Homo sapiens: one gene and its partners. The protein of the gene in region 1 interacts with the protein of each later gene in a pairwise test. Each region holds a gene or a part of one and is shown in the gene's direction. Other genes may lie near its edges. The genes, in order: TMEM154, SGTA, SMIM1 and FUNDC2.

Region 1 (7,394 bases):
CACGCTGGGTCCCAAGTACCCATGCTAGTGTTGGCAGTGGTTGCAATGGACTGGGCAGGCCAGTCCCCAGGCCTGTAGCTGGTACATGAGGGTGGATGCCAACTATGATGGTGGCAGCAGAGTGGGTAGTCCCAACCTCAGGCATCTGGGAGGAATGCTGTGGTGCCAGTGGTGATGGACTAGACTGGGCTGGGCAATCACCAGGCCCCAAATGGCACACTCAAGTACTGCACTGGGAGAGAGCTGGCCTGTGCAGACCTGTTCTTTGACTCTCTGGTGGGGCATGCAGTAGCTGGCTGTAATAGGTAGGGGTGAAGCAATCCCCAGGCTGCTGATAGAAAGCTCAGGTGAAGGCAGCAGTGACTACACTGCTGCCTGCTACTGCAGAGGATGGGATTGCTTTCAGTGGGAGCAACCATAGGCAGCCAGCTGGGGCTATGCTTTGCTCATGCTTTGGCCCTAGCAGCAGCAGTTTATAGCAGCAATAGCTGAGGACAGTGGAGTTTGTCCTTGAGGCACATAAACATGTGTGAGCGCCCCGCTGCTGGCCAGGGGTGGGGGGAGGGGTGCTGCCAGCGGCTCCTACCTTGGCCCTGGCAGCAGCAGCCAGCAGCGCTGGTGGCTGCAGGCAGGAGCTCCAGAGACATGGAGATTCAGGGGCTGTTGGGCCCTAGGGCAGGATACAGTCTGGTGGGGGCTGGGCCCTCAAAGTGGCACTGTGCTGCAGCCACTAGGGCTCAGGGGTGTGTGGGACTCCGCATAAGGTCCCTCTCTGGAGCAATGCCATTGCACAGTGTACAGGCGCTCTCAGTGTTAGTCTCAGGGCCTGTGAGAGTTGAGGGGCTCTCCCGTGGCTAGGCTGCAGGAGTCTGCAGTGGAAATATGGACCACTACCCTTTCCCCACATTGGGGAGCTTCTCCTGGCTCCCAGCCAGTCTCAGCCAAGAAGGATGCCTTATTTCCCTCTCCTTCCGTGCTTTAAGTGTTGTCTATTACTACTCTGTTGAATTCCTGTGTTCTCCCTTAAATGATCAATTCAAAATGTAGCTTATCTACTCAGTATTTTTGTTATTTTTTGTGAAGAGGTGACTGCCAGATGCATCTAGTCAGCCATTTTGAAGCCCCTCCACTCTTCAAACATTGGTAGTTTTTTTTTTCAATCCTGCCTTTGGCATATACACATGAGAAACACCAGTGAGTTTACTCTGTAGTTTGTAATTGATTCTGATGGTTTGGGGTTGCATTTACTAAAGGGATTATCAAATGAATTCCCTGATGTGGGAGACTGAAAGTATTTATTCATACAATCAACACAATTAGATTCTTACTGTCTTAGCTCAGATACCATAACAAAATACCACAGACTGCAAGACTTAAAACAACAGACATTTATTTCTCACAGTTCTGGAGGCTGGGAAGTTCAAGATCAAAGGTGCTAGAAGATTTAGTATTTGGTGAGAACTCTCTCCCTGGCCTGCAGTCACCACCTTTCCGTATCCACATATGGCAAGGAAAGAGAACTCTGGTTTTCTTATCTTCTCATAGGAGCAATAATCCTGTCATAGGGTCCCCACTCTCATGACCTCATCTAAACCTAATGACCTCTCAAAGGCCTCACCTCTTAGCCCTAATCCATCACATTGAGGATTAGGGCTTCAATATATGAATTTGAGGGGAATGCAAACATTCAATTCATAGCAGTGACCAAACATTTTTATTGTTTCAACCAAAATCAGAGGACTCCATTGTCATGGGATTATGAAGATAGATGAACTATTGAATTGGCTCTGCAATGTCCAGTTTGATCATTCTGTAAAGTAATTGCCTAACCTATACCGCAGAGTGTGGTTTAAAGCAGCTGACTTCTGTATTTGCATAGTTCCTTTCACCTTAGAATAACTTTCTTGTAAATTATCTCATTTGATAAGTTTTCTGTAGCATCAACTTACGAGGTATTTTCCTCAGTTGGCCCCTTCTGAAAGGTAGACAACATTATACGATATTAGGACAAAGACCTTCAGCTTATCTTACCATGACTACTGCTTAGACAGGTAAGGAAAAGTTTTTCAGATAGTCATCAAGTCAGTAGTCCTTTCTCATCCTGATGGTTTTTATTTTCCTTTTCTTTTTTCTTTTTCTTTTTTTTTTGAGATGGAGTGTCGCTCTTGTTGCCTAGGCTGAAGTGCAATGGCGCGATCTTGGCTGACTGCAACCTCTGCTTCCTGGGTTCAAGCAATTCTCTTGCCTCAGCCTCCCAAGTAGCTGGGATTATAGGCATGCACCACCACGCCCAGCTAATTTTTGTATTTTTAGTAAAGACAGGGTTTCACCATGTTGGTCAGGCTGGTCTCGAACTCCTGACCTCAGGTGATCTGCCCACCTCAGCCTCCCATAGTGCTGGGATTACAGGCGTGAACCACCATGCCCGGCACAGTCAATTCATTTTCAAAGAATTATTTTCCATTGATAGGTAACCTTTTATTTAAATATTAGGACACAGACAGGCGCAGTGGCTCACACCTGCAATTCTAGCACTTTGGTAGGCTGAGGCGGGTGGATCACTTGAGGCATGGAGTTCGAGACCAGCCTGGCCAACATGGTGAAACCCTGTCTCTACTAAAAATACAAAAATTAGCTGGGTATGGTGGCACATGCCTGTAATCCCAGCTACTCTGGAGGCTGAGGCACGAGAATTGCTTGAACCCAGGAGGTGGAGGTTGCAGTGAGCTGAGATCATGCCACTACGCTCCAGCCTGGGCAATGGAGCAAGACTCTGCCTCAAAAAAAAAAAAAAAAATTAGGACACAGAGTGCATTTCTTTACATCTAAAAGTGCTGTATGGCATGTACTTAATTTTAGTAAATGTGAATTTAAATTTATTCAGACATTTTGTTAAAATATTATCATACCCTATAGGAGATGTCCTGTAATATCACATTACTTGGCTTGGAAAATCACCCTTAACATGAGGAAGCTTCCGAATCCACTTTGCTTAAGCGTATCTAAAATGTCTGGTCAATGCAAAACTGCCTACCTTTGTGCAAGGTTTTTCTCTGAGCTCTGATTCCATATTCAATACACTCCCAGCTTGAGCTTCATTTATGTTAAATCAATGTTCTGTGTCACACTTAGCTTGGAGGCCAAGTATAGTGGGTCAAATTTATCACAGAATGTATCTAGGAATAATTTAAAAATCATTGACAATATAACATACTAACTTTGTCTCCATGGAAATTTCAATTTTGTATCTATTCCCACAGGTAATTATGAGGAATTAGAAAACTCAGGAGATACAACTGTGGAATCTGAAAGACCAAATAAAGTGACTATTCCAAGCACATTTGCTGCAGTGACCATCAAAGAAACATTAAATGCAAATATAAATTCTACCAACTTTGCTCCGGATGAAAATCAGTTAGAGTTTATACTGATGGTGTTAATCCCATTGATTTTATTGGTCCTCTTACTTTTATCCGTGGTATTCCTTGCAACATACTATAAAAGAAAAAGAACTAAACAAGGTAAATATTTGGTGTATTTCCATTTCCAGAAAATTGCTTCATGTGTTAGTGAACAATCAATAAAACAAAATATTCTTTGCTTTGATACAGAACCTTCTAGCCAAGGATCTCAGAGTGCTTTACAGACATGTGAGTATTATCCTAAAACCTGCCTACAGGTGGGGGTGGGATTGGAGAAGGAGCAGAGATGTTTTAAAATTAAGCAACAAGGACTACATATAATAGTAAGTGATAAATAATACATTTCAATGAAATTTTCCAGAAGTGAATATATGCATATTCCTTTCTTTAAAAAAAAAAAAAGTTTAATTGAATTTCAAAATACAGGCACGCCTTGTTTGGTTGCACTTTGCTTTATTGCACTTTACAGGTATTGCTTTTTTTTTTTTTTTTAACAAATTGAAGTTTTATGGCAACCATTGCCTCAAACCAGTCTATTGGTATCATTTTTTCAACAGCACATGTTTACTTTGTGTCTCTGCATTACATTTTGATAATTCTCACAATATTTCAAATGTTTTCAATACTACTATGCCTGTTATGGTGATCTGTGATCAGTTATCTTTGATATTACTGTTGTAATTGTTTTGGAGTGCCTGAAACCATGCTCACAGAAGACAGTGAACTTAATTGATAAACATTGTGTGTGTTCTGACTGCTTCACCAACAAGCCATTCCCTGTCTCTCTCCCTGTCTTCAGGCCTCTCTATTCCCTGATACAGAACAATATTGAAATTAGGCCAATTCATAACCCTACAATGGCATGTAAGTGTTCAAATGGAAGAAGAGTCACATATCTCTCATTTTAAGTGAAAAGCTAGAAATGATTAAGCCTTGTGAGGAAGGCAAGTTGAAAGCTGAGATAGGCTGAAAACCAGGCCTCTTGTGCCAAACATTTAGCCAAGTTGTAAATGCAAAGAAAAAGTTCTTGAAGGAAACTAAAAGTGCTACTCAGTGAACATACAATGATAGGAAAGCAAAGCAGTATTATTGTTGATATAGAGAAAGTTTCAGTGGTCTGGGTAGAAGATCAAACCAGTCACAGCATTCTCTTAAGCCTAAGCCTAATCCAGAGCAAGGCCTTAATTCTCCTTAATTCTACAAAGGCTGAGAGAGGTGAGGAAGCTGCAGAAGAAAAATTGGAAGCTAGCAGAGGGTGTTTCATGAGGTTTAAGGGAAAAAGCCATTTCTATAACATAACAGTGCAAGATGAAGCAGCAAGGACTGATGTAGGAGCTGCAGCAAGTTATCTAGAAGACCTAGTTCAAATCGTTGATGAAGGTGGCTACACTCAACCATAGATTTTCCATGTAGATGAAACAGTCCTCTGTTGGAAGAAGATGCCATCTGACTGGGCATGGTGGCTCACGCCTGTAATCTCAGCACTATGGGAAGCTGAGGCAGATCATTTGAGGTCAGGAGTTTGAGACCAGCCTGGCTAACATGGTGAAACCCTGTCCCTACTTAAAAAAAAAAAAAAAATGCCATCTAGGACTATTAATAGCTAGAGAGGAGAAATCACTGCCTGGCTTCAAAGCTTCAAAAGATATGCTGACTCTCCTGTTAGAAGCTAATGTAGTTGGTGACTTAAAGTCAATTCTTGTTTACCATTCTGAAAATCTGACAGCTCTTAAGAATTATGCTAAATCTACTCTGCCTGTGCTCTGTAAGTGGAACAACCAAGCCTGGATGTTAGCACATTTGTTTATAGCATGGTTTACTGAATAATTTAAGTCCACTGTTAAGGTCTACTGCTCAAAATACAAGATTCCACTAAAAATATTACTGCTCATTGACAATGCACCTGGTCACCCAAGAGGCCTGGTGGAGATGTACAAGGAGACTAACGTTTTCATGCCTGCTGATACAATATCCATTCTGCAGCCCATGGATTAAGGAGTCATTTTGAATTTCAAGTCTTATTGTTTAAGACATACATTTTGTAAGGCCATAGCTGCCATAGATGGTGAGTCCTCTGATAAATCTGGGAAGGAATCTTCTGGGAAGAATTCACCATTCTAGATGCCATTAAGAACATTTCCGATTCATAGGAGGAGATCAAAATATCAACATCAACAGTATTTTGGAAGACGTTGATTCCAAGACCCATGAATGACTTTGAGGGGTTCAAGACTTGAGTGGAGGGGTCACTGCAGATGTGGTAGAAAGAACAAGAGAACTAGGATAAGAAGTGAAGCCTGAAGATGCCATGGAATTGCTGCAATCTCATGATAAAACGTTAAGTGGCTGAGAAATTGCTTCTTCTGAATGAACAAAGAGTTTTGTTTTTTTTTTTGAGATGGAATCTACTCCTAGTGAAGATGCCATGAACATTGTTGAAATGACAACAGAGGATTTAGAATATTCCATAAACATAGTTGGTAGAGCAGCGGCAGGTTTTGTGAGAATCGTCTCCAATTGTGAAAGAATTCTATTGCAGATAAAATGCTATCAAACAAAGCATTGTATGCTACAGAGAAATCTTTGTGAAAGAGAGTCAATCAATGTGACACATTTCATTGTGATCTTACTTTAAGACATTGCCACAGCCTTCCCAACCATCAGCAACCACCACCCTGATCAGTCAGCAACCATCAACATCAAGGCAAGACCCTCCGCCAGAAAAATAATTACAACTTGCGGAAGGCTCAGATGATCGTTAGCATTTTCTAGCAATGAAGTATTTTAAATTAAGGTATATACATTGTCTCTGTAGACACAATGTTGCACACTTAATAGGTTACATTGTAGGAAAAACATAACTTTTTATGCATTTGGAAACTAAAAAATTAATGTGACTTGCTTTATTGCAATACTCACTTTATTGCAGTGGTCTGGACCTGAACCTGCATATTTCTGGGGGATGCTTTTCTACTGCTGCCATCTTTGACCCTAATCCAGATGAGGATCCTGTATAATTTTAGCCAATAAGCCAGTATAACATTTCCCATCACTGGGGAAAGAGAAAGGCTGATCAAGGAGTGAGTCAGATTAGGGTTAGGGATGGGAAGGCTAGAGGCCTTGGGGTCATCACCACCAGAAGAGCATTCTTTCATCTATATTTCTGTTACAGATTTTATTTTCTCCCCCACCCCACATCCCAATTTGATCTTGAAAAGTCCTGGAGGAAGCATTGTTCTTATTCCCATTGAAGCTATGCTAACTTTTATAATCAAATTCTTCAACTGTCTAAAGATTACTAACATCAATCCGAAAACCAATTATAGAAAATTCCCTCAGTCAGAGACCCACTTTGAGAGTATTCAGTTGTGATTCAAGGAGCATCACGTGCTAGGAGTCAGGGTAGTTCTAGGTCTAAAGCAGACTTGGGTACTTTTGGCTTGTGCCAGTAAAACTCGCTCGGATTCGATTTTTAAGTTAAAGCCTTTATAGTCTTTCCAAAAAGTTACTCAAAGGATAGGAACGTCTCTAATACAATACATAGTCATACATGTATACAAAACTCACTTTATGTCCCTCACACCCATGACAGGGCACCTCTGGCTTTGGGGCCATGCCCTTGTCCCACATGCCCACCTCACTGTCTCTGTGCCAGAGGAATCTTTCACAGTCAGCAGATGAGGCAAATGTGAGCTGGGGAAGAAGCCCCGAAGAGTATTTCCTTTCATGGCAGAGGCCCATATAATAGATTCCAAAGAAGTGGGAAATACATGTTTCTCCACTGCTTGAAATTTCAGGACTTCCTAATAACATGGTCATATGGAGGCTTCTTTCTAAGCTTAAGAAAAAAAAGCAAACAGAGCTTTTTAAATTTTTTAAAATTCAGGAAAAGTCATAATTTCCTTCCCCAAACCATGACTGGTTTTACCTAATGGACTCAAGGGGTGGGGGGATGTTGGAGGTATCCACTCA
Region 2 (7,394 bases), on another chromosome or scaffold:
TTTTAGAAGGAAGTAGGCTTCGATGTGGGGAGTGGGCAGGAGACTGAGCTAGAACTCGGGTATCCTAAGAGGGAGTGAGGAGCAGGGCACCCGGCTCTCCTGCCCTGCTGTTGGTGAGAAGCACCGTGGATTTGGGATGGAGTTGGGCAGAGTGTTCACAGAAGGTAGTGGGTAAGAGCGGGCCCTTCCTACTGGGGTGTGAGGAGGTAAGACGACCTCAGTTTACGAGGATGTTCTATTTTTTTCCATTGAATGATCCCTTCTGGGCAGGGAAATAAGGAAGAGAGGTGGTTGTGAGTTTTTTGTTTGTTTTTAGAGACAGGGTCTCACTTTGTCACCCAGGCTGGAGTGCAGGGCCCAATCACAGCTCACTGCAGCCTCCAACTCCTGGGCTTAAACAATCCTCTCGCCTCAGCCTCCCAAGTAGCTGGGACTACTAGTGTGTGCCGCCACATCAGGCTAATTCTATTTTTTTTTTTTAGAGTCTCTTTTGTAGGGTCTCACTATACACTGTATTGCCCAAGCTGGTCTTAAACACCTGGACTCAAGCGATTCTCCCACCTCGGCCTCCCAAAGTGCTGGGATTACAGGTGTGAGCCACCGCCCCGACCGAGGTGGCTGTGTTTTGATTTTGTTTTTATTTTAATGATAAAATGAAAAGGTGGGATGTGGAGTCATCGGCTCAGAGCCGAAAGGGACGCTGAAGCCCCCAACATTGGAGCTGGCGCCACCCCCATGGGCCAGCACCCTCCCACCCTCACTTCTGCGGCCTCTGCCTTGAAACCAGGCCTCGGCCATGGCTCCTGAGCATCCATAAAGCCCTCGCTGTTGGGAGACACAGCAGGCCTTCTTTGAGATGCTGTCCCACAGCCAAACCCTACAAGTTGTGATTGTTCCAAAGACACCGAGTGCCAAACGGCAGTTGAGGAAAATGCCGTCCTCATGCTTGCTGGACCCCCCTCTGAAGAGCAGAAAACTTTCTTACGGGAAAGCCTGGCTGTTGAAGCAGATTTGAGAACCGTTTGATGATGTCCCCCACCTTGGGGACAGCAGAGAAGCCACAGGTCCTGGCACCACTGGCCTGTGTCACATGCTGGGCAGGGCCTGTGCTTCCCTTAGTTGAGCAGTCCTCCACCGTGGACCCGCAGTTCTGAAACCCAGAATAGCCTACAAGCAGAAGGTTTTCAGAAAGCTCACAGCAAAGTCATTTTGGACAGAAAAAGCTGACCTGTACTGACTTCCAGCCTTTCTTCCCACTTAGTGGCCATCAGTGATTTACAGCTGGGGGCGGTTTGGCAGTGTCTGGGGACATGTGTGGTTGTCTCAACTGGAGAGTGTTTCTGGTGTGCAGTGGGGGGAGCCAGGGGTGCTGCTCAGCCCCCTGCCGTGCGCAGGACAGAATCATCCACCCAAGATGCCCACAGTGCCACAGGCGACAGACCTGCATTAATTATTTGGGAAAAAAATTGAGCTTGCTCCTGCTCACACTGGACAGCAGAATAAACTTCTGATTGGGCAGAGGGTGGAAATCAGGGGGTCCCCAGCTCCTAGGATTCACCTCCTTGCTCCCTCTCCCCTTAGTGTGTGGATTTATTTTATCTTTTGTTTTGTTTTGTTTTGTTAGAGACAGGGCCTCACTTTGTTGCCCAAGTTGGCCTCAAACTCCTGGGCTCAAGCAATCCTCCATAGTTTGTGAATTTCAATGTGTGCAGCCTCCTGGGACCTTAGTAGAGCAAATGATCATGGGACACAGAGTCTCTTGGGGATCCGTGGCATCCCCTAGCCCAGGGTGTCTAAGCTGGGGCACTTCTGCTCAGCTCTGTCCCAGGGTAACAGGGATGGGGTAGGGTGGAGACCCTGAGGCTAAGAGGTTCTCTGGGATGTGGCGGCGGGGGCCGGGGGGGGCGGTGTTCCAGGAGGGAAAGCAGCACGTGCAAAAGCCCTGGGGTACAGAGGCACCGGCGGCACTGGAAGAGAGGAGTGTGACTCAGTGAATGCAACTCTTTCCACTTTCTGAACCCTCATTGGGTCCCTAGCCACCTGCCACCCTGTCCAGTTCTCACACCTCAGTTTAAGAGAGAAGGAAACAGGTACACCAAAGAACCAAAGATGAGATTTCTTGGTTTATTCTGTGTTAGTTCCCTGCGAAGGAACGCACATCCCCCTCCACACACACACCCCTGCCCCCCACACCCCTCAGCGTGGATCGTGCTAGGCCCTGTGTGCCTGGAATGCTAAGCCGAGTTCCAGCTGTCACTGGTAGGATCTTGCGTGTGCCACCTGTCTGGGCCTGTCACTCCCTCTGTAAGAGGGGGCTGTGACCCCCGCCTTCTAGGTTTATGCGGGGACTCAGCCAGGTCTGATTTCTTTTTTTTTTTTTTTTTTTGAGATGACGTCTTGCTTTGTCACCCAGACTGGCGTGCAGTGGTGCGATCTCAGCTCAGTGCAGTCTCCACCTCCCAGGTTCAAGCAACTCTCCTGCCTCAGCCTCCCGAGTAGCTGGGATTACAGGCACCCGCCACCACACCCGGCTAATTTTTGTATTTTTAGTAGAAGCCAGGCTGGTCAGGAACTCCAGACCACTTCAGCCTCCCAAAGTGCTGGGATTATAGGCCTGAGCCACCGCTCCTGGCCCAGGTCTTGTTTCTGCTGCTTGCTGTTGCCTCTTCCAAATCTGAGGTCACCAAGTGAGGTGTGTCTGCCTGGGGATCCTGACCTGATGCCGCCTGTTACAGAATCATTTCCAATGAAACCTCTGAAGAGATGTCGGCACCATTCTCAGCTAAAGACACCTGGTTGGGTGTGACCCTCATCTCAAAGACCCCAGACTTTGAAGAGAAACTCTTTTCTTGAGGCAGGGTCTCACTCTCTTTCCCAGGCTGGAGTGCATTGGTGTGATCACAGCTCACTGCAGCACGGACCTCCTGGGCTCAAGCGATCCTCCTGCCTCAGCCCCTCAAGCAGCTAGGGCTATAGATGTGTGCCACCACACCCAGCTAATTTTTTAATGTTTTGCAGAGATGGGGTCTCCCTATGTTGCCCAGGCTGCTCTTGAATTCCTATGCTCAAGTGATCCCCCCGCTTTGGCCTCCCGAAGTGCTGCTGGGATCACAGGTGTGAGCCACTGCGCCTGGTCTTTTTTTTTTTTTCTGAGATGGAGTTTTGCTCTTATTGCCCAGGCTGGAGTACAGTAGTGCGATCTTGGCTCACGGCAACCTCCACCTCCCGAGTTCAAGTGATTCTCCTGCCTCAGCCTCCCAAGTAGCTGGGATTACAGGCGCGCACCACTACGACCGGCTATTTTTTGTACACTGGGTTTCACCTGTTGGTCAGGCTGGTCTCGAACTCCTGATGTCAGGTGATCCGCCTGCCTCGGCTTCCCAAAGTGTTGGGATTACAGGCATGAGCCACTGTGCCCGACCAGTCTTTCTTTTTTTTTTGAGACGGAGTTTTGCTCTGCCACCCAGGCTGGAGTGCAGTGGCTCTATCGCAGCTCACTGCAGCCTCCACCTCCCGGGTTCAAGCGATTCTCCCGCCTCAGCCTCCTGAGTAGCTGGGACTACAGGTGTGCGCCACCATGATTGGCTAATTTTGTTTGCATTTTTAGTAGAGATGGGGTTTCACCATGTTGGTCTCAAACTCCTGACCTCAGGTGATCCACCTGCCTCTGCCTCCAAAAGTTCTGGGATTACAGGCGTGAGCCACCATGCCAGGCCAAAAATTACCATCTTAATCAGTTATAAATGCACAGTTCAGTGGCTTTAAGCACATTCACACAGCTATGTAGCCATCGCCACCATCATCTCCAGAAGTTTCTCATCTCCCCAGGCTGAAATTCTGTCCCCATGAAACATTCACTCCCCAGCCCCTGGCACCCCCAATTCCACTTTTGGTCTCTGTGAATCCAACGACTCTAGGGACCGCCTAGGAGGGGAGTCACACAGGTTTTGTACCTTTGTTTCTGGCTTATTTCACTGAGTGCGACGTCCTCAAGGTCCGCCCATGTTGTAGCCTGGTCAGGATTTCCTTTTCATGGCTGCGTAGCGTTCCGTCGTGTGGCTAGGCCACATTGTGTTGATCCACTCACCTGTCCGTGGACACTTGGGCTGTTTGCTTTTGGCTATTGTAATGCTGTTGTCAAAACGTGCTTAAAAATAAAACAAAAGAAACTCCGTAAACCAAAAATCTTCACCTTTCGGGTGGCATGTGTCTGTTTTCCTTGGGCTTGGGGGTCAGGAGACCTGACTGGTTTGCTCTCTGAACCCTGTTGGCCGGGGCGGATGACGTCAGCTTTTGTGGTTTCACTTTCTGGTGGTGGTTGACTGCCGTGGGCCCTGATGTGTCGTACATGAGATCTTTGGATTCTGGGACTGGCTGCCCGCCGGCTCTAGGCAGTCCTGATCCCAGACCTCAAAGTTCTGGGCTGTCCATTGTGTCCTGAGATGGGGGCGGAAAACTCATTACCATCCCGCAGGAGCTTTCAGGAAGACCGTAACTCCCTGTCCAGCGACACAAAACACAGCTCTTGTAGATTTCTCCCCCTTTAAAACATTGAGCTGTGATTCCCACACCGCTGTGATCCCCACACCGTGAAATTCAGTGGCATTTGGTGCCTTCACAGGGTTGTGCAACCATCACCACTCTCTGGTTCCAGAGCTGTCTCATCGCCCCAAAAGGGAGCAAGGAAGCTGGTCCCCACCAGCTGTCACTCCCCTTCCCCTCCCCAAGCCCCGGCACCCACGCGTCTCCTTCCTGTCTCTGGATGGGCCTGTCCTGGACATTTCATAGAAATGGAGTCGGTGTCACACCCTGTGTGTGCTTTGGGTCTGGCTCTTTTGCTCTCTGTTTTGTTTTGTTTTTTAATGATTGCTGATGGATGTTGCTTTCCCTGAAAGGGAAACAAAGCTGTGGGCACACCCAGTGTGTCTGGGACTATGCTTGTTTAGTGGCGTGGAGGTCCACGTCGCCGGTGTCATCTGAGTCTGACGTCAGCCACTGTTTAAAGCGTGGCGGGCCAATGCCTTGCTTGTCTCTGGCGCGGGGTGGGTTATGCGGTCAGGCAGCCCACGCCTCATTTTCTAGGGGGTGGTGGCTGTTCACCTCATGTAGAGGCATTTTAGGGGAACCAAGACACTGAACGCCTCTGATCTTGAGTGTGGGGGCAGGTCAGGCGCCTGCCGGGCGCGGATCCTGCCGTGCCTGTGGCTCCAGTGGCCTTGAGTGAACACCTCCATCCCCAGTCCTGCCGCATAGGTCACTGCGCCGAGGTCATGAGACGGTGTTGTGTCAAGGGCCTGGTGCACCCACAGGCTCTTCAGGTCCTCCTCTTCTAGTCCAGCTTTCTCCCAGTGGGAGCTGTGGATGTTGAGGCCGGATCATCCTCTGGGATGGAGCCGTCCTGGGCACTCCAGGGCACTGAGCAGCGTCCCTGGCCTCCCCCCACTCCATGTGAGACAACACCAAGTGTCTCAGCACATCCATCGAGAACCGCTGGTCTGGGAGAGAGACAGAATCTGGAGAGACATGCACGCACACACACACATGCGCGCGCACACAGCTTCAGCAAAATCCAGTGGGTCAGTAGAATCCACGGCTTTCCTCAGCATTTGCCTCCTGGAGGAGGCCGGGTATGGTGGCTCACACCTGTGATCCCAGCGCTTTGGGAGGCCAGGGTGGGAGGATTGCTTGAGGCCAGGAGTTTGCCAATGTTCATGGGCAGGTATTTTACATAGTTGACGTTCTAGGTCTGCGAAGTGCTCAGGTAGGTCATCTGCATGGTTTTAATGCTTTTGGTGCCCTGCCTCTGATGCTGTCTACACGGGGATGGTTGTAGGTGAAGGCCTCTGTGTACGCGTGCACGGGTGTTAACCTACGTGTCTCGGGCCATTAGACATCTGTGCACTTAAAGTTAAAATGGACATTTGCATAGACGTGATAGGAAGTGTCGTTTTCTTATAAAAGAAGCTGCCCCTCGGGCAGCTGGCTCCTGGGACCGCAGCACAGTGAGCAACGCGCAGCTGCTCCCTCCCTCCGTGTCCCTCGGCCACCGCCCTTCACTGCTCCCTTCCGTGTGATGACAGCCCGTTTGTTCTCCTGTCTATGTGATCCTGGGCATGCGACCACGCGTCCCTGCCCAACCTGGCTCAGTTCAGCTGGAGACAGGGCCGACCCGCTTGTTGGAGTCGTCACGAGGACTGAGGTGCGTCCTGAGATGCCTGCTTGCCAGGTGTTAGTGTCGGTTTGCTGGGGCCGCGGTGACAGAGTGCCATAGACCAGGCAGCTGAAACAGAGTTCATCGTCTCTCAGTCCTGGAGGCCGGAAGTCCATGATCAAGGTTCTGTCGGGGCTCGTTCCTTGTGAGGACGTGAGGGCAATCTGGTGTCCCTGCCGTGTGGCCGCGTCACCCATCTCTGCCCTCGGTGTCCCTGCCCTGTGGCCGCGTCACCCATCTCTGCCCTCGGAGTCCCTGCCGTGTGGCCGCGTCACCCATCTCTGCCCTCGGAGTCCCTGCCGTGTGGCCGTGTCACCCACCTCTGCCCTCGGTGTCCCTGCCGTGTGGCCGCGTCACCCACCTCTGCCCTCGGTGTCCCTGCCGTGTGGCCGCGTCACCCACCTCTGCCCTCGGTGTCCCCGCCGTGTGGCCGCGTCACCCACCTCTGCCCTCGGTGTCCCCGCCGTGTGGCCGCGTCACCCATCTCTGCCCTCGGTGTCCCTGCCGTGTGGCCGCGTCACCCATCTCTGCCCTCGGTGTCCCTGCCCTGTGGCCGCGTCACCCATCTCTGCCCTCGGAGTCCCTGCCGTGTGGCCGTGTCACCCACCTCTGCCCTCGGTGTCCCTGCCGTGTGGCCGCGTCACCCACCTCTGCCCTCGGTGTCCCTGCCCTGTGGCCGCGTCACCCACCTCTGCCCTCGGTGTCCCTGCCGTGTGGCCGCGTCACCCATCTCTGCCCTCGGTGTCCCTGCCGTGTGGCCGCGTCACCCACCTCTGCCCTCGGAGTCCCTGCCGTGTGGCCGCGTCACCCACCTCTGCCCTCGGTGTCCCTGCCGTGTGGCCGCGTCACCCACCTCTGCCCTCGGTGTCCCCGCCGTGTGGCCGCGTCACCCATCTCTGCCCTCGGTGTCCCTGCCCTGTGGCCGCGTCACCCATCTCTGCCCTCGGTGTCCCTGCCGTGTGGCCGCGTCACCCATCTCTGCCCTCGGTGTCCCTGCCGTGTGGCCGCGTCACCCACCTCTGCCCTCGGAGTCCCTGCCGTGTGGCCGCGTCACCCACCTCTGCCCTCGGTGTCCCTGCCGTGTGGCCGCGTCACCCACCTCTGCCCTCGGTGTCCCTGCCGTGTGGCCGCGTCACCCATCTCTGCCCTCGGTGTCCCTGCCGTGTGGCCGCGTCACCCACCT
Region 3 (7,430 bases), on another chromosome or scaffold:
GGGTGAGCAGGAACTAGCGCCAAGCCTGATGGTGAGGCCCCACGGGTGTGGGGAAGTGAGGCTGGACACCCCGGGTAGCTGCCAACCTCTACCCTGGGGAGGGACCCCCAGTACAGAGGCCCAGCCCCTTGTGACCTCACGACCTCCAGCACCTGGCACGGTGTTTGTACAAAGTTGGGCGCTCAATAAATACTGGAAAGAAGGAAAGGATTCCACTCCTCACACAGGCCAGGGGCCCATGACATTCCTGCTGTCACTTAAACCTGTCCGAGCGGCAGTGTGGACATGCTTCCACTCGGAGGCAAGGCTGAGCCTCTCGGGCCCAGCTCCTGTGGGGCACCTCTGCGTCGTCAGGGTTTCTGGACGAGGAACTCGTGCTGAGCGTGCCGCATAACTCAAGGGGTTCCTGTCTGAGGCTCCTGGGGTGCAGATTGGAGGGGTTTCCTCTGCAGCTTCCTGGGAGGCACGATTAGCTACCTCTGGGGAGGCGGCTGCGGGTGTACAGGCAGACAAGGATCTTCATGGCAGCAGAAGACGAGAACGCCTTCTGGGTCTGTGCGCGGGGGCCAGGTTCAACGCTGCTGTCCATGGCACAGACACCTCCTAGTCAGCATGGAAAGGAGGAAGCACCAGCAGCGCACTGTTAAATGCCTAAAGTGAGAGTGTCCCCAAGGGCCAGGAAGTCCGCTCACTGCAGCTCCCCTGGGCAGTGGAGGATGGTCCAGGGGTTACGTGCGGCTTCTGTACTATTTTGGTTTGTTGGTTTAAAAATATATATATATGTGTGTGTAGGTTTTACTTTCCAATTAGAAAAGCCCACCTGGTGTAGGAGAGTCTTTGGGCTTTGGGGCTGGGCCGCACAGGGTCAGGGGTTGGATCCGGCACCTCCTAGCTCTCAGACAATCCACATTGACTTCTCTGACACCTGTTTCCAGTTTCTAAAGCCATGAAAAGTGAGGGTGAGCTGTTCCTTCCTGGTACATAAAAAATAAGGTGGTGGGGGGTGCAGCCCACTGGCCAGGTGCCTTCTTGGGTAAAGGCGAATGATAGTGTTGTCCCTTTGCTCACAGCTCGAGAGGTTAAGGAATAAGATCATCCAGGCCACCTTTAGCATCTCCGGGACCAAGTCCTTGGCCAACGAGATCTCTGACAATGACATCCTGGAAGCCCTGCAGGTATACCCCTAAGCTCAGCTGCCTCTATCCGGGCCCCAGACCCCCAGGCCAGAGCTGTGGTAGGGGGTTGTGGGGGGCCTAGATTCCAGGGACTCTGTTCTCATCCTACCTGTGTCACCTATTCACTTGGACCCCAGGACCCTCCTTTCTCTCAGCTCAGGCAGAGGGGATCAAATCATCCTAAGGCAGGTGGGGGCATGGCACGGGAGTCTTAGCTACTCTCAGCAAAACGGGGGACGGGCATCAGAGACCAGCAGTAACTGCCACAACCCATCCTGAGCGCTGTGGAGAGGGGACAAGCCGCTCAGGGCACGAAGATTCTCCCACAGCAGGAGCCCAGCCCCGGCTTTGTCCAGCTTGGTCCCCTCCGCTGGTATCACCACCCACTGATCCAGGGCCCTGGTGCAGACCCCTCCCACCCCGGCCACAGCCTCCTGGGCTCCTTCCTGACCAGGGGTCCCCAAGCAAGGGCCTCGGAGAAGTAGAGGGGTGTAGGAGAATTCAGGCCTTGGGGTCACTGGGCATGAGGGGGTCACCACCCACCAGCTGGGGGCCACACACTCACTTTTCTGAGCCATAGATGCCTCCCTCTGTGATGGACAGCGCATGCTCACCTGCAAGGTGTCGTAAGACTCAGAGCTCTGGGAGCCGGGCACCGGCTATGGCTCTGTGTGGGGCTGTGTACTACGAAGGGGTCACCTCTCACCAGGAGCTGCTTTTGTTCCCAAGACCCACACTTCACCCTCTGGGGCTGCCCTTGAACCCCAGTGTGTGCCCCTGACCTTCCAGCACCCACGTTCCTGGGGCCTGGTTCCCTTCCTCTGCAGAGTGGGGGGCCCTGGACAGTGCCTCTCCTGCAGAGCTGTAATGTGGAGAGAGGTCTCTGCGGCCTTGGTACTGTTGTCTGGGGGAGGGGAGGAGGAAGGGGAGAGAAAGAGGAAGAGAAGAGGGAAGACAGAGGATGGAGGGAGTTATTCCCACCGCACAGTAGCCAGGGAAGAGCACCTTTGCTTGCTTGCCATAGCCTGACATGAACCAGCAACGGCCCAGAGAGGAGAATGGAAGAGAGGTGGGGACAACATTCCCTCTGTACAGGACAGAAGGGACTTGAGGGACAGATGTGACGACCTCAAAGATCTCTAGGAGTCTGGGGCTCCTCACAACTCTAAGAGGGCTGAAGAGGGGGCTTAGTGCAGGCTTCTGCGGGCTGGTGGTGTGCACCTGCCCCCGGCTCCGCATTCTGTGACTTCACTTCCGTGGCTGAAAATCAGCCACTGTGGGAATATTCCCACCACAGAAACTGGCAACGCCACAAAGCCGAGGGTTGTTTGTTTTTTCTCCCCCTGGAGAGCCGGTTGTAAGTATTCACCAGCACACCCCTGCTGCAGCAAGCCTCTCTGGAGGAGGAGGAGAGGGTGGCGTCCCGGGCAGCTGGCACGGACTGTGCAGACCGGCCTCAAGGCCAAGGTGAGGAACTGGGAAGGCCACCTCGACGGCTGTGTTTCTTGTGTAGAGAATTATCTCAGAGAGAAGCGACTACTATAATCAGCTGAAGCAGAAAGGCGTCAAAGTGCCCCCCCTGCAACAGTCAGAGGCCTTCCTGACCAGCAAATCCAAGAAGGGGACCTCCAAGTAGGCCCAGCCAGGCCCCCAAATACGGTCAGCCCAGCAGAGGCCGGGGCCCAGCTCCAGAACCACCCGCCCCCACCATGCGTCCTGCTCTCAGACTCAGAATTAAACCCCGGTGTTGGCACTGTCCCACCTTTTTCTTCTCTGGGATCCACGCGGGGGCCTACTCTCCTCTGCGACCTTGAGCTACAAGGACACTCCCCATTCCAAAGCTCACTCACAGGGAGTCAGCACACCAGCCTGTGCCCCTAGCTCCTAACAGGTCCCCTTGCGGCACCAGGCTGCCAGAGGCCTGAGCCGGGGTGTCCGCCCAGCACTCAGCACAGACCTCACGCCTGAGCAGAAGGGGTCTGTGACCTTCTGCCCTGGGGGCTCTCCTGGCTGGGGCACTCTCTTGCTGGAGGACCCCTCTGGAAGATGGTGAGGGTGGGGGGCTCTGTTCCCATCCCCCCGCTCCTGGAAGGAAAGCTTTACGCACGGGAACGGTGTCTGTGGTCCCCGACGCTTCCCCGGCGCCTCTGAGGCTCTGGGCGCCTGAACACCTTCGGAAGGGACTCTCCCCATTACCCTTCTCTGCTCCCCACCCACACCTGCTTCCCTTCCCGCCGCGAGCACCGAGCGTGGGCCACGTGCGGGCGCCACGCCCCTCAAGCCCCGGAGGAGGACGGTCCCCGCGGCCGGGTCCCCGAACCCAGCATTCAGGCCCAGACGCGCCCAGAGCCTCCCGCAGTCTCGTCGGCGCTGCAGCCGGGTCCCCGCGGGGCTGGGAGGCTCGTGGCGTCGGAGGGGCTCCAGCAGGGGTGAAGGAGGTCGGGGACCCTGGAGGCCCCAAGGGCGAGCCGTCTGGGGGCAGAAAGTGCAGCCCTCTGCAGACCCTGCCCGGCCCCCCTGCACCTCCTGGCCCCGGGGCTGGGCGGCCTAGAGCCCCGGCCCCTTCCGGACGAGGCGTCTCCCGGCCCCACTCGCCCCGCCCCCAGCCCCTTCTGGACCAGGCGCCTCCCCGCTGCGGCCCTAGCCCTTCCCCGCATGGCCCCGCCCCCCTCTCGCCCCGCCCCCTCTCGCCCCGCCCCCGGCCCCTTCTGGACCAGGCGCCTCCCCGCTACTGGCCCCAGACCTTCCCCGCATGGCCCCGCCCACCACTCTAGCCCCGCCACCTTCCGGACCAGACACCTCCCCGCTGCTGGCTCCAGCCCTTCCCCGCGTGGCCCCGCCCCCGCCCTCGCCCCCTGCCCAGGCCCGGCCCCTGCGGAGCCCAGAGACGCGGGGACACAGGTGAGGCGCGCGGGGTCCGGGCTGCGGCTTCCCGGTGCGGCCGCAGTGGGCAGGTGCGACTGTGCGCGGCCTCGCTGGCTGAGAACTGGCGGGGGTGGGGGCGTGCCCTGGACTGACCCCCACCGGCCTAACCCGCGGTGCGGGGCCAGGGCCGGAACTGCCCGCCCGGCTCCTTGCCCGGCTCCTTGTGGCTGCTGGGGACCCCCGACACCAGCCACTTTCCCTTCCCGGCCCTTAGCAAGATCGGCTTCTCCGGTCACCTTTATTTTTTTAGGCTCGAGGCGTCTGCCGCACCTCAGCCCACGACCTGCCCCGCTGGGAGGTGCGGGCCGCTGGCCAGGCCCTGACCGCAACCTGGCCCAGAGGCCCCAGCCCTCAGGCAAGGTTCTCCGGGTAAGTGTGGGGCCCTGAGGCGCTGTGGGGTGAAGAGGTCTATGGAGGGGCGCCTGTGTACCTAGGGCCTTCCTGCACTCACAAGCCCCCAGGAGGTGCCAGGATCCGGGAGCCTCCCAGGGCCTGGAGGGGAGTCCCTGATGGGTTCCTGCCGCCACACCTGTGACCATCACATGAGTGTGGAGAGACGTTTACTGAGCAAGTGAGGGAGGCCAGCCTCAAGGGCCGGCTCTGGTGGCTGTGCACCGGGGTGACTTGGGAACAACGTGTTCTACGTCAGCAAGACAGGAACCCATGATCCCAGAGTTGAACACACTGGGCTTGACCCCTCCCACCGGGAGGCCCATGGTGGGCTGCTGCTGTGGACTTGGAGCCTCAGCACTCCCGAGACTAATGCTGCGTGGATGTCGGGTTGCAAGGCGGCTGCTGCAGCTCCAGCAGCTCCAGCCATCACGTCGAGTCTGGAAGAAGGAGGTGGCTGCTGCTGCTTTCACAGAAGCAAACTCTCCCATCCCCTGCTGCACCCTGGCTCCTGGACCCCAGCTGGGTGACTTGGGAAAGCAGGGGTGGTGGTATTAAGCTTGTCTTACCCGGGTCATGGCTGTTACCTGGGGCTGGCACATTGCTGCTGGGACCAGAATGGGATTCTGCACACCAGGCAAGAGGGCGTGAACCTCGGGTAGGCAGCTGACCGCTCCACATGCTCCGGGAAAACAGCACCCATACTCCAGTAGAGGCTGGGCCTCTCCGGGCCTGAGTGCCAGGCTGCACTGAGCCAGGGCTCCCACCGAAGGCACACTTTATGGCTTTGAGACAGCTCCTTCTGCCTCTCTGGGCTTTGGGGGAAGGCAGACATGGAAGTGCCGGGAGTCTCAGAACTGCCTGGGGCCTGAGTTTCTGAGCTGGCTTCTTGCAGGGGAGTGGCTGCTGTGCCTTTAGGCCTCTGTGCCGATGACCTGGGAGGAAGGTCAGCCTTCCCCGCTGGAGGGGGCCCAGCAAAGCCTCAGCTCCTAGAAGTGAGGGGCCTGCCATTGCCTGCCCGAGGACCCCACTCCTGGGGGCCAGATGCTGAGAGGGGACACTGGGGGCCCAGCAGACCAGAGAGCTGACCCCAGTCCCACAGCCTGGGTGGGTTGTCAACTTCTCGTGCCCCCTCCAACTCCTCCACCCCCACACCCCCTTAGGTAAATAGGAGGTCGAAACAGAGGCCAGAGGGTAAAGGAGGTGCTTAGAGTCCGGGCTGGCTCAGGCCGGCCGGGCAGCTGTGCTAGTGCTTGGAGTTCCTGCTCAGTCCCCGTGGTCTCCTCGCCCCTCTGGGCACTTGGGCTGCCAGGCACCGAGCTGAGTGCCGAGATGCAAAGATGAGTCCCAGGTCTGCAGGAGTTGGAGCCCAGCAGGGAGCTGGCCTTGGGGCCGGGCCCCTCCTGCTCTGGGCAGCCACCCAGCCCTACGACCCTCCTGTCTCTGTAGGGCCTCCCCAAGGCCTTGAATCCACCCCGGCCCCGTGCTCAGTGCATCATGCCCCCCAAGCCCCAGCCCTCCTAGAGGTGTGGGTGGGGGAGGGGCTGCAACCCACACAGGCTGAGGACACAGCTGCTGCCACTGCCTGGGGCCAGCCACGCATCCTCCCCAGACAGGGACCGGTCTAGCTGTACCAGCCGCTGCCCCGGACCTGCTGCCCTGCCCCACCCCCCCCTCCCCTGGCCAGCCTCCCCAGAGGCCAGAAGGCGCCTTATCGGGCAGGGTTAAGGAGGGGGACAGTTATCAGGGGCTGCAGCCTAGATTGGGCCACAATGTCCTCGTCTCTTGAGGGTGGCAGGCTGTGCAGGCTCCCTGATAAAAGCACCGGGGAAGGGAGGCTCCTGGAGTGTGCTGGAAGGAAACACTGGCCTCCCACATGCCTGAGGTCAGGGCTTGGCCTGAGATGGAATTCTCGCTTGGTCCCATCCTCCCGGCCTGACCCTGGGCAAATGACTCTACCACTTTGTGTCTAGGTCACCTGTTAAGTCAGGCGACAGACCCGGTGAGGGAGTCAGCCCCCGACCCTTAGTGCCCCTCTCCTAACAGCAGCCTCAGAGGGGGTCTTGACTGCCGCCCTCCATCCGCTTGTTTTACAGTGAAGCCACAGCCTGGCCACCTGTCTTGATCTCCCCACCGAGAAGGCCCCGCCCCTCCCGCTGCAGCCCCACAGCATGCAGCCCCAGGAGAGCCACGTCCACTATAGTAGGTGGGAGGACGGCAGCAGGGACGGAGTCAGCCTAGGGGCTGTGTCCAGCACAGAAGAGGCCTCACGCTGCCGCAGGTGAGGGGCCTGAGGGCAGCCTGCCAGCCATAGCAGGCTGGTGTCTCCCTCCAGAGACGCCTGCCCTAACCCCTGCTACCGGCCCCATCACCCTCCACCCCATCCTGGCTGGGAGCCCACGGTCCAGCAGCTCAGCAAACCGCAGCCTTTGGCCTTCCCTCTGGTTGGCTGTGGGCGGGGAGAGCTTCCTCTTGACTCCAGCAGAGCGCCCAGGCCCCTCCCCCTGACCCAGACCAACGGCCACAGTCCACTTAGGGGGCCCCTCATGCGGCCCTGGCCTGGGGCTCACCTCCAGTTGGTTCTCACCCCAGGATCTCCCAGAGGCTGTGCACGGGCAAGCTGGGCATCGCCATGAAGGTGCTGGGCGGCGTGGCCCTCTTCTGGATCATCTTCATCCTGGGCTACCTCACAGGCTACTATGTGCACAAGTGCAAATAAATGCTGCCCCGCATGCACGCGGGGGGCTGGCCGCACACGTGAGAGCACAGGCCTGGAGACACACCCCTTGTACACATGGACCCCCCCACAGACACGGACCCTGCGGCACACACAGCGCACAGGGCACACGCGCTGGCAGCCAGGCACACGAAGACACCAGGTGCACAGCTGTCATCGGCCCCACACGGGGGCGCACAAACACCTGGCACACAGCCCTTCAA
Region 4 (7,394 bases), on another chromosome or scaffold:
GTCCATGTATTCTCTCAGTTTAATAGCAGGATTTTGTGGGATAAACAGGGTGGAGTAAATGAACCAGAGCCTTCTTTTAGATACAAATGTTGATACTCAACTATGTGGTTGCTGTAAGTAATTTGTTCTTTTTAGTACTAAGTAATATTCTATTGTGTAAATATGATACAATTTGTTTATCCATTCATGTGTTGATAGACTTTTGTGTATTTCCAGTTATAGACTCATAAATAAAGGTACTATGGCTTGATTACTTGTGAAGTTGAACTTTTTCCTTTTTGTGGACACTTTCCTCTGAATTGCCCTTACCCATTTTTAAAGTGAACTTTCTTACTGATCTCTATAAGAAGTTCACTTTTTTGAGTATCAATGTTTTGTTTATGATACACATCACAAGTATTTTCTCTAGTCTGTTTGGGTGACTGGTGGTGCCATTAGCTAAAATAGGGCCTAGAGGAAGAGCAACAATGCAGGAGGAGACTCTAGCAAGGTGAAGACTTTTAGTTTCAGATATTTTGAGATTGCCAAAAATTTGGTAGAGAGAAGTGATATTGATAGGGCATTGATTGATTGGCTACAGTCATTCTCTTCATTCCTAGGATGATATTAATCCATCATCAAAATCTACATGCTTGAATCAGATTTACACTGAGTTTTAGTGTTTGTGCCTGCTGTTTTTATCAAGGGAAATAGGTATATGCTGTAGGTGTCTTTGGATGTGGTTCTCTTAATATCCGTTTATATGAACTTGCTCATGAGAAATCTCTGTGGGGCCAGATGCTAGATTTCTTCCTGTTAAGCAACAGTAATAACTGCCTGAATGCTTTGCTCTGTTCACATTGTCAGGAAACTGACACTCATGGGCACATTGTCAGAGTCATTCTCTGGAAACATTTGTATTGGCTGTAAGGTCCATCTCTTCACCCTACATCTTGACCCCCCACCTTGATTTTCATCTTATGTAACTCTTTGTAAAAGGGTTGTAAGAGTATAAATAATTTAAAAGAATTGCCAGTAGTTATTTCTAGTGCCAGGCATATGGCTTCGCATATAGGGGGGATGCTGAGTAGATGTCATCATGATACAAAGAATCAAATGGCAGATGTCTCCAAAAATGGAAAGTCAGAGGGTTTCGAGAGTCTACTTCAGGATTTATCCTGACTAAAAGAAATAACAAATCTGTTTCTCATTTCTTGTTGTCATTATTGTTGATACTGTAGCTTGCAAACCATACTGGGTACATCAAAGTTGACTGGCAACGAGTGGAGAAGGACATGAAGAAAGCCAAAGAGCAGCTGAAGATCCGTAAGAGCAATCAGATACCTACTGAGGTCAGGAGCAAAGCTGAGGAGGTGAGACTTGCATTGTTCACGTGTAGTGTGTGAACAGTGCAGACAAAAACAGGGCTTAACCCTATTGTACCATATCTCAGTGATGGACAGGGCTTAAGCATTACAAAGAACTTAGAGTAATGAGACAAAACTAACTTGGATTATCATCACTTCAGAACATTTTTAAAAGCTGGATAATTGTTTGGTGACCTTTGTCTGTGCACATTTGTGGAGTGATTATCCCTTTAACCAGTTCTTGTAGGAATGTGGGGCAGCATAGTAGGTGGGAAGGATATATGGCCAGTATAATTATTTTGAGTCCCATTTTGTCGCTATACACGCATATCTCTGAAACATTCATACTCTGCTTGTTCTGCATATAACTAGTGGAAATGTCACAAGTATTCAACTCCACTGTATATCATCAAAATAGCCATAGATGATATGTTAAATAAGTGGATGTGGCTGTGTTGCAATAAAACTTTATTTAAAAACAGGTTCAGATTGGATTTGGCCCATGGGCTGTAGTTTGCTAACCCCTGATCTTGTTCATTAAAGCCAAGTTAGATTATGACCTGGCACTGCAGGGACAGGAGAAGTCCTTCCTTTTTAAAAGGATATTTTTTGCTGCTGCTTTATTACCTTTAGAAATATGTCAGATGTTGCAAATAAATAAGTACACTGAACTGGGGAGAAATAAACAAGGATCAGGGTGTCAAGAAGATAGCTGGTACTTTCTGTAGCCTGGAGTGATGAGAGATTCTCCCATTAGCTCACTCTAGCCTCACAGGGAAAACAGACAGATTGAGTGCAGGGGAGGAGAAATACCCTGTGTGCGCCTCAGGCTTCTCATGTTGTGAGTGGCTCTTCGTGCTGGTGATTGGCAAGTGGCTGGTCAAAGCTGGTGCCTTTACCCAGAGTGGGAAGGTGGCAGAGATGGGTATCTACAGGAGCCCAGAGCCCAGATAGTTTCTCTTTCCTTTCTTCCTTCTGTCTCTCCTCAAAGTTAGGAAAGTTACATTTTTTATTTCATGAAAACTTTATTATTCAAATGTTTATAAAAATAATGCATGGCTGGGCACAGTGACTCACCACAGTGAGTAAAAAAAAATTTTGTAAGAGAGGTCTCACTCTGTTGCCCAGGCTGGAGTGCAGTGGCACAGTCATGGCTCACTGTTGCCTCAACCAAGCGATCCTCTGACCTCAGCCTTCTGAGTAGCTGGGTCTATAGGTGTGTACCACCACACCCGGTGAAGTTTTAAATTTTTTGGAGAGACAGGGTCTCCCTGTGTTGTCCTGGCTGGTCTCAAACTTCTGGGCTCAAGCAGTATTCCCACCTCGGCCTCCCAAAGTGCTGGCATTACAGGTGTGAGCCATGGCACCTTGCTGAAAACTTTAAAAATAATACTGGAAGTGTATATAATAAAAAGCATAAAGTTAATATTTGATTAGAACCAACTGTTGACTCACAGAGGGAGTTTGTTATAAAGTAACCAGATAATTTGGAATTGAGTTCACTGTCACAGGCCCTGGGGATGTAGTGGCTGGTTTTCCTACTCATAGAGCCGGTGGTCTGATTTGAGAAACAGGATGAAGATTTAGTTCAGTATTTACCAACAAGATGACTTCAGTGAGAACAGTTTGGTGGGGTGGTGGAGTTGAAAGCCAAATTAGCAAGTTGAAGAAAGAGTAGTAAAAATAATAAACGAAACCAATTTTCTCAGGAAGTTGTATGATTTTTTTTCTTCACCCCAATGGCAGATGACAAAAGTGCTTCATTTAAGGAAATGTAGAGGTCCAGGAGAGATGGAGGAGGAGTGGAAATGAGGCAGGAAGACATAGGCATCGTTGGAGTAAGGGCTTACTGGAGGGTTAGAAGACAGTGGTCCTAGGAGGATGGGGTTGGTAGTGTGAAAAATGTTAGGGGAATGTCAGGGTGTGAGTAGCTTAGGTGGTTTGGGGATGGAAGTCACCGTACTTGAGTTCAAGAAATGATCAGGCCAGGATGTTGGATGTCTTGTTCATATGAACACTTTCTAAGGTGGTGATCACACTTAGGAGAAAGAGGAAGTCTGAGCCACTTATCAAAATTGTCTCTGAAATTGGAAGGGTGGGGAGTGGTCAGGAGATTGGTAGAGCACAGACTAAGGAGCCATAAAGAGTGTCTGAATGTATGCACTGAGTCTCAGATGACCGGGAGCTATTCCAGGAGGGTAGAGGGGAGGTGGGAAGCTTTGGGAACTTAAGGAAATAAGAACGTCACCTGTTAATCATCTTAGATGTGGTGAAGTGTGAGAATGAGAATTTATAGCATCTACCTGGGAGCAGGTTTCAGGGGGGAATGCATGGATGGAGAGATTTAGGGGAGAGACTTCAGGAAATGAGAAGCCTCTATTGGAGGGTAGATGCCAAAGAGGATGGAAGGAGCAAAATTGGAAACAGAATTGCCTCTGTAACCAGTTTATTTAGTGCAGCTTTACTCTTTCGCCATAACTGTCCCCATGAACTCTCCTTCTTTGTCCTTGATTCAAAGAGCCATTGTCTCTACCTCCTGATGTGCATCCTCCTTCCCATCAGGCTCCCTCTAGTCTTATTCTCCCCACACCAGCCAGTAGTCATTTTCATATGTAAGTCTATTTAATTATTATTAAATAGACTATTAGTGTAAGTCCATTGCCCTTTGGGTAAAGTGCAAATTACGTAACCGATGAGGGGATTGACATTGTTAAGACTGGCATAGGTATAATAGAGATGATTCTTAATATTATTAACATCCTTAGCAAAACAACCCATTGTACTATCTTCTGTTTTCAGGTGGTGTCATTTGTGAAGAAGAATGTTCTAGTAACTGGGGGATTTTTCGGAGGCTTTCTGCTTGGCATGGCATCCTAAGGAAGATGACCTCATGTTCATTGTTCCTGGTTTTTTCCAGCCAGCAGCCTCTACACTCCATCATAGGACATCGAGTCCCTCCTCCTCTTCTCCCATGCCTTCTTCCCTGCCATGGCAAATCTGAGTGGCTTCTCTAAGCATCTGCTGGTACAAGTCAATGTGGCACCATGAGCTTCATGGTGGCAGAAGAGACAATAGTCCTTAGCTCTCCTCCCAGTACACCCCCTACTTGGCCAGTCTGTAGGCCAACAAGAAGGTTCCTTTACCCCCATGCAAGACACTTATGAGAACACATTACAAGATGGCTGACCGTGGAGGATGAGTGGATCCTGAAAGGTTGTCCCAAACTGTTGATTTGGAAAAGAAATAAGCACATAGATAACCTTATTGTGTGCTGCATGGAAAGGAACTGAATACATTTGCCTTTAAGCATGAAAGATTTTGGTATCTTGGTGTCTACTTTCTTTTTTAGTTGGTTTTACATTACAGAAAGCTATTTAAATGTGTTATAATTATGCCGACAAAATTGGCAGCATAATTACTGTAATTGAAAAATCTGATATTGTCCAGGAATGCTTTCTACCGTACAGGATAATGTATCTCATGGCTGTTTCCAAAGGGTTTATTTATTGTAAAACAAGTGATTTAGGTGGGAAAGGGAAGATTTTGGATTTTTATTTTGTAGAAAAGGTTTTAAGCTTTGAAATGTGAATGAAATATCCTTATCAAAACATTAGGGGTGGCCATAACTCCTCTGTGCCACTTCTACTATTTTTTTTTTTAATCTAGTTAGTATGAAATACAACATTTAAACCGGAATTTTAAAGAAGTAGCTTTCCAGGGATTCAGAATTAAGAAAGATAGTGATAGGACATGAGAAATAAATTTCCATCAAGTGTAATCTACCGTCTCATGATGACCACAACCCTGAGAATTATTCTTTAAAAGCTTACACACACACACACACACGGGCACACACGCACACACAGAATCTTACCACATTTTGCTGTAGTGGCATGTTACCATGTCTACAGTCCCTACTAGAATATCAGTCAGCTTTCAGAGGGCAAGACTTCTGTCTTCACCATTATACTCACAGGGCCTAGCACTTAATAGGTGCTGAGTATTTGAATAATGACTTTATAGAAAGAAAACTCACTATTAAAGGTTAGTTTTACTCAGAATTGTTAATCTTGGAGATGATCTCTTGTGAAATATGAGTGTGTTTCTAAGGCCATACATTTAAAAATGTTTGCATTTTAACCCGTCTTGAGAATGATGTATTGAATTTGAAAATCAAAACTACCAGTGGATGTGTGGAACTTTACAGAAACCACCTATTTGCGTTTTTCTCCTTACATTTAAGGAAACATAAGCCATTTTGCTTGCAATATGTATGAATCATCTCAAAACCATAATGGTATGAGCCTCTTTGCTGCATATTTTGCTATAAGAACTTATTTTTTTTCACTTTTTATTATGGACGCTTTCAGGAATATATAAAAGTAGAGAATATAGTACAATAATCCCCCTGTGTATCTATCACTCACTCACAACAATCATCAAATTATAGCTCTGCTGGTTTTTACCAGTTATTGTGAAACAAATATCAAAATGTCATTTTATCATATTTCAGTATGTATCTCTAAAAGGTAAGAATTATTTCTAAAAATCATAAATACCTCATCATATCAGACATTAACAGTAATTACATAATATCCAAAATCTGATCAGTGTTCAAAATTTCCTCAAGTGTTTTATATTTAGTTTGTTTGAATCAAAATTCATGCAAGGTTCACATCGTATTTGCATGATTTGGATAAGTCTCTTAACCTTATAGATCCTCCTCTATTTTTTTTTTTTTGCTTGCTATATATTTATATCTCTATATATATTGATATAGACATATGTAGTGACACTGAGTCATCTGTTTCCTGCTTCCCCACACTCTGCCTCTCCTGACATCTGGGTCTCTGGGTTATGCCATATATGGTGATAGTGGCTGCAGCCACTTTACCTGTGTGACTTACCCACAGCAATGGGATGGTAACAGCAAAGCTAACCAAAGTGCTCTGTGCCCCTTTGGGTTGCATGTGGGGAGACTGGCCACCCAATGCCTCTCCAGTGGGGTAGGGGTTGTCTTTTGGTGCATCTGTTTTTCCTGTGATTATTGGTGAGGGCAGCAAAGATTAGCAGGTGGTTGTAAACTACCTTGAGTAGGTTGTAATAAATAGTCTGGCCTCAGACTGTATTCTGATTGTCTGAATTAAGATCTGTAGGTAGGTCCCTCCTGAAGTTTTTTCCCAGCTGGCTGCCTCTACGACTGTGAGGGTCATGGTTGAGGTCAGTATTGCAGGTTGGCCTCATCCTGCTAGTATGAGAACGGCTGTGAGTTCTGCCCACGGTGTGAGGCCACTGTGACCACTTGGGATTGTGCAGAGCTGGCATGGAGGTTGAACACGCACAGCTGCACACCTTGTTTTCAGTTTAGCTGAACCATCGGTGAAGGAGGCTCAGGCATTTGGGGTTACCTGTGAATCAAGGCCCTATTGTGCCAGCAGTTTTGTTTCAGGTGGTGAAGTGGGAGTTAAGGTTTCCCCCAAAAGAACAGCTGCCACTCCTCCATGCAAAACCGAGATGATTCAAGGACCAGGCAGCTCCACCTTTCAGTGCACTACTTTCATTTGACTGGAGAGGCCTGCTTAGCTAGGCACGTATTTTCTCCAGTAGCAGAGTCCAATGACGCTCTGGACTTCCTAATTAGTGGTGGTGGGGCGGAAGTTTTTCCTTGGGAAGAGCGTTGTCGCTGTATATGGTCCGCAGAAACTTGACTTGGAATGTGTTCGGGGTTTCATCGCCCCCTTGTGGCGGCGACGTGGTAACACCGCACTCAAGGCTTCCAACTTGTCAACCAATAGGATGGCATCTACGTAGTGAAGGCTTCCCTTCCCTTGTCCTGCAGCGTGCTGGACAGTGTCCCGGCTCAGGGACCCCTTCTGTCCCCTTCCTGGCTACTATGGGTCGGCCCTGCGTCCTCACCACTTTGAGCCACCCTTTGACCCAGCGTCTCTCCCGCAATGGGACCTGGTGGGATGGGGACTTGGAGCATGCTACAGGAGAGGTAGAACTTTTGAGTCTCTTCTTCCCAAGGTTCTCCCCAGAGTCGGAGAG

What was found.
Region 2: the proteins of TMEM154 (region 1) and SGTA interact in binary tests that used the Homo sapiens proteins (3 or more experiments, as listed by UniProt).
Region 3: the proteins of TMEM154 (region 1) and SMIM1 interact in binary tests that used the Homo sapiens proteins (3 or more experiments, as listed by UniProt).
Region 4: the proteins of TMEM154 (region 1) and FUNDC2 interact in binary tests that used the Homo sapiens proteins (3 or more experiments, as listed by UniProt).

Annotation. Positions count from the first base shown.
Region 1 is NC_000004.12:152,648,794-152,656,187, reverse strand, and holds part of TMEM154 (transmembrane protein 154 precursor), read left to right. Parts: intron 1-3,260; coding exon 3,261-3,521; intron 3,522-3,611; coding exon 3,612-3,650; intron 3,651-7,394.
Region 2 is NC_000019.10:2,773,009-2,780,402, reverse strand, and holds part of SGTA (small glutamine-rich tetratricopeptide repeat-containing protein alpha), read left to right. Parts: intron 1-7,394. UniProt on the Homo sapiens protein: Co-chaperone that binds misfolded and hydrophobic patches-containing client proteins in the cytosol. Mediates their targeting to the endoplasmic reticulum but also regulates their sorting to the proteasome when targeting fails.
Region 3 is NC_000001.11:3,768,713-3,776,142, forward strand, and holds SMIM1 (small integral membrane protein 1), read left to right. Parts: upstream 1-4,036; 5' UTR 4,037-4,076; exon of another isoform or gene 4,077-4,350; 5' UTR 4,351-4,469; intron 4,470-6,586; 5' UTR 6,587-6,661; coding exon 6,662-6,771; intron 6,772-7,082; coding exon 7,083-7,209; 3' UTR 7,210-7,244; downstream 7,245-7,430. Other genes in the region: CCDC27 (coiled-coil domain-containing protein 27), read left to right, coding at 1,071-1,175, 2,689-2,811. UniProt on the Homo sapiens protein: Regulator of red blood cell formation.
Region 4 is NC_000023.11:155,050,450-155,057,843, forward strand, and holds part of FUNDC2 (FUN14 domain-containing protein 2), read left to right. Parts: intron 1-1,220; coding exon 1,221-1,352; intron 1,353-4,145; coding exon 4,146-4,223; 3' UTR 4,224-7,394. UniProt on the Homo sapiens protein: Binds directly and specifically 1,2-Diacyl-sn-glycero-3-phospho-(1'-myo-inositol-3',4',5'-bisphosphate) (PIP3) leading to the recruitment of PIP3 to mitochondria and may play a role in the regulation of the platelet activation via AKT/GSK3B/cGMP signaling pathways.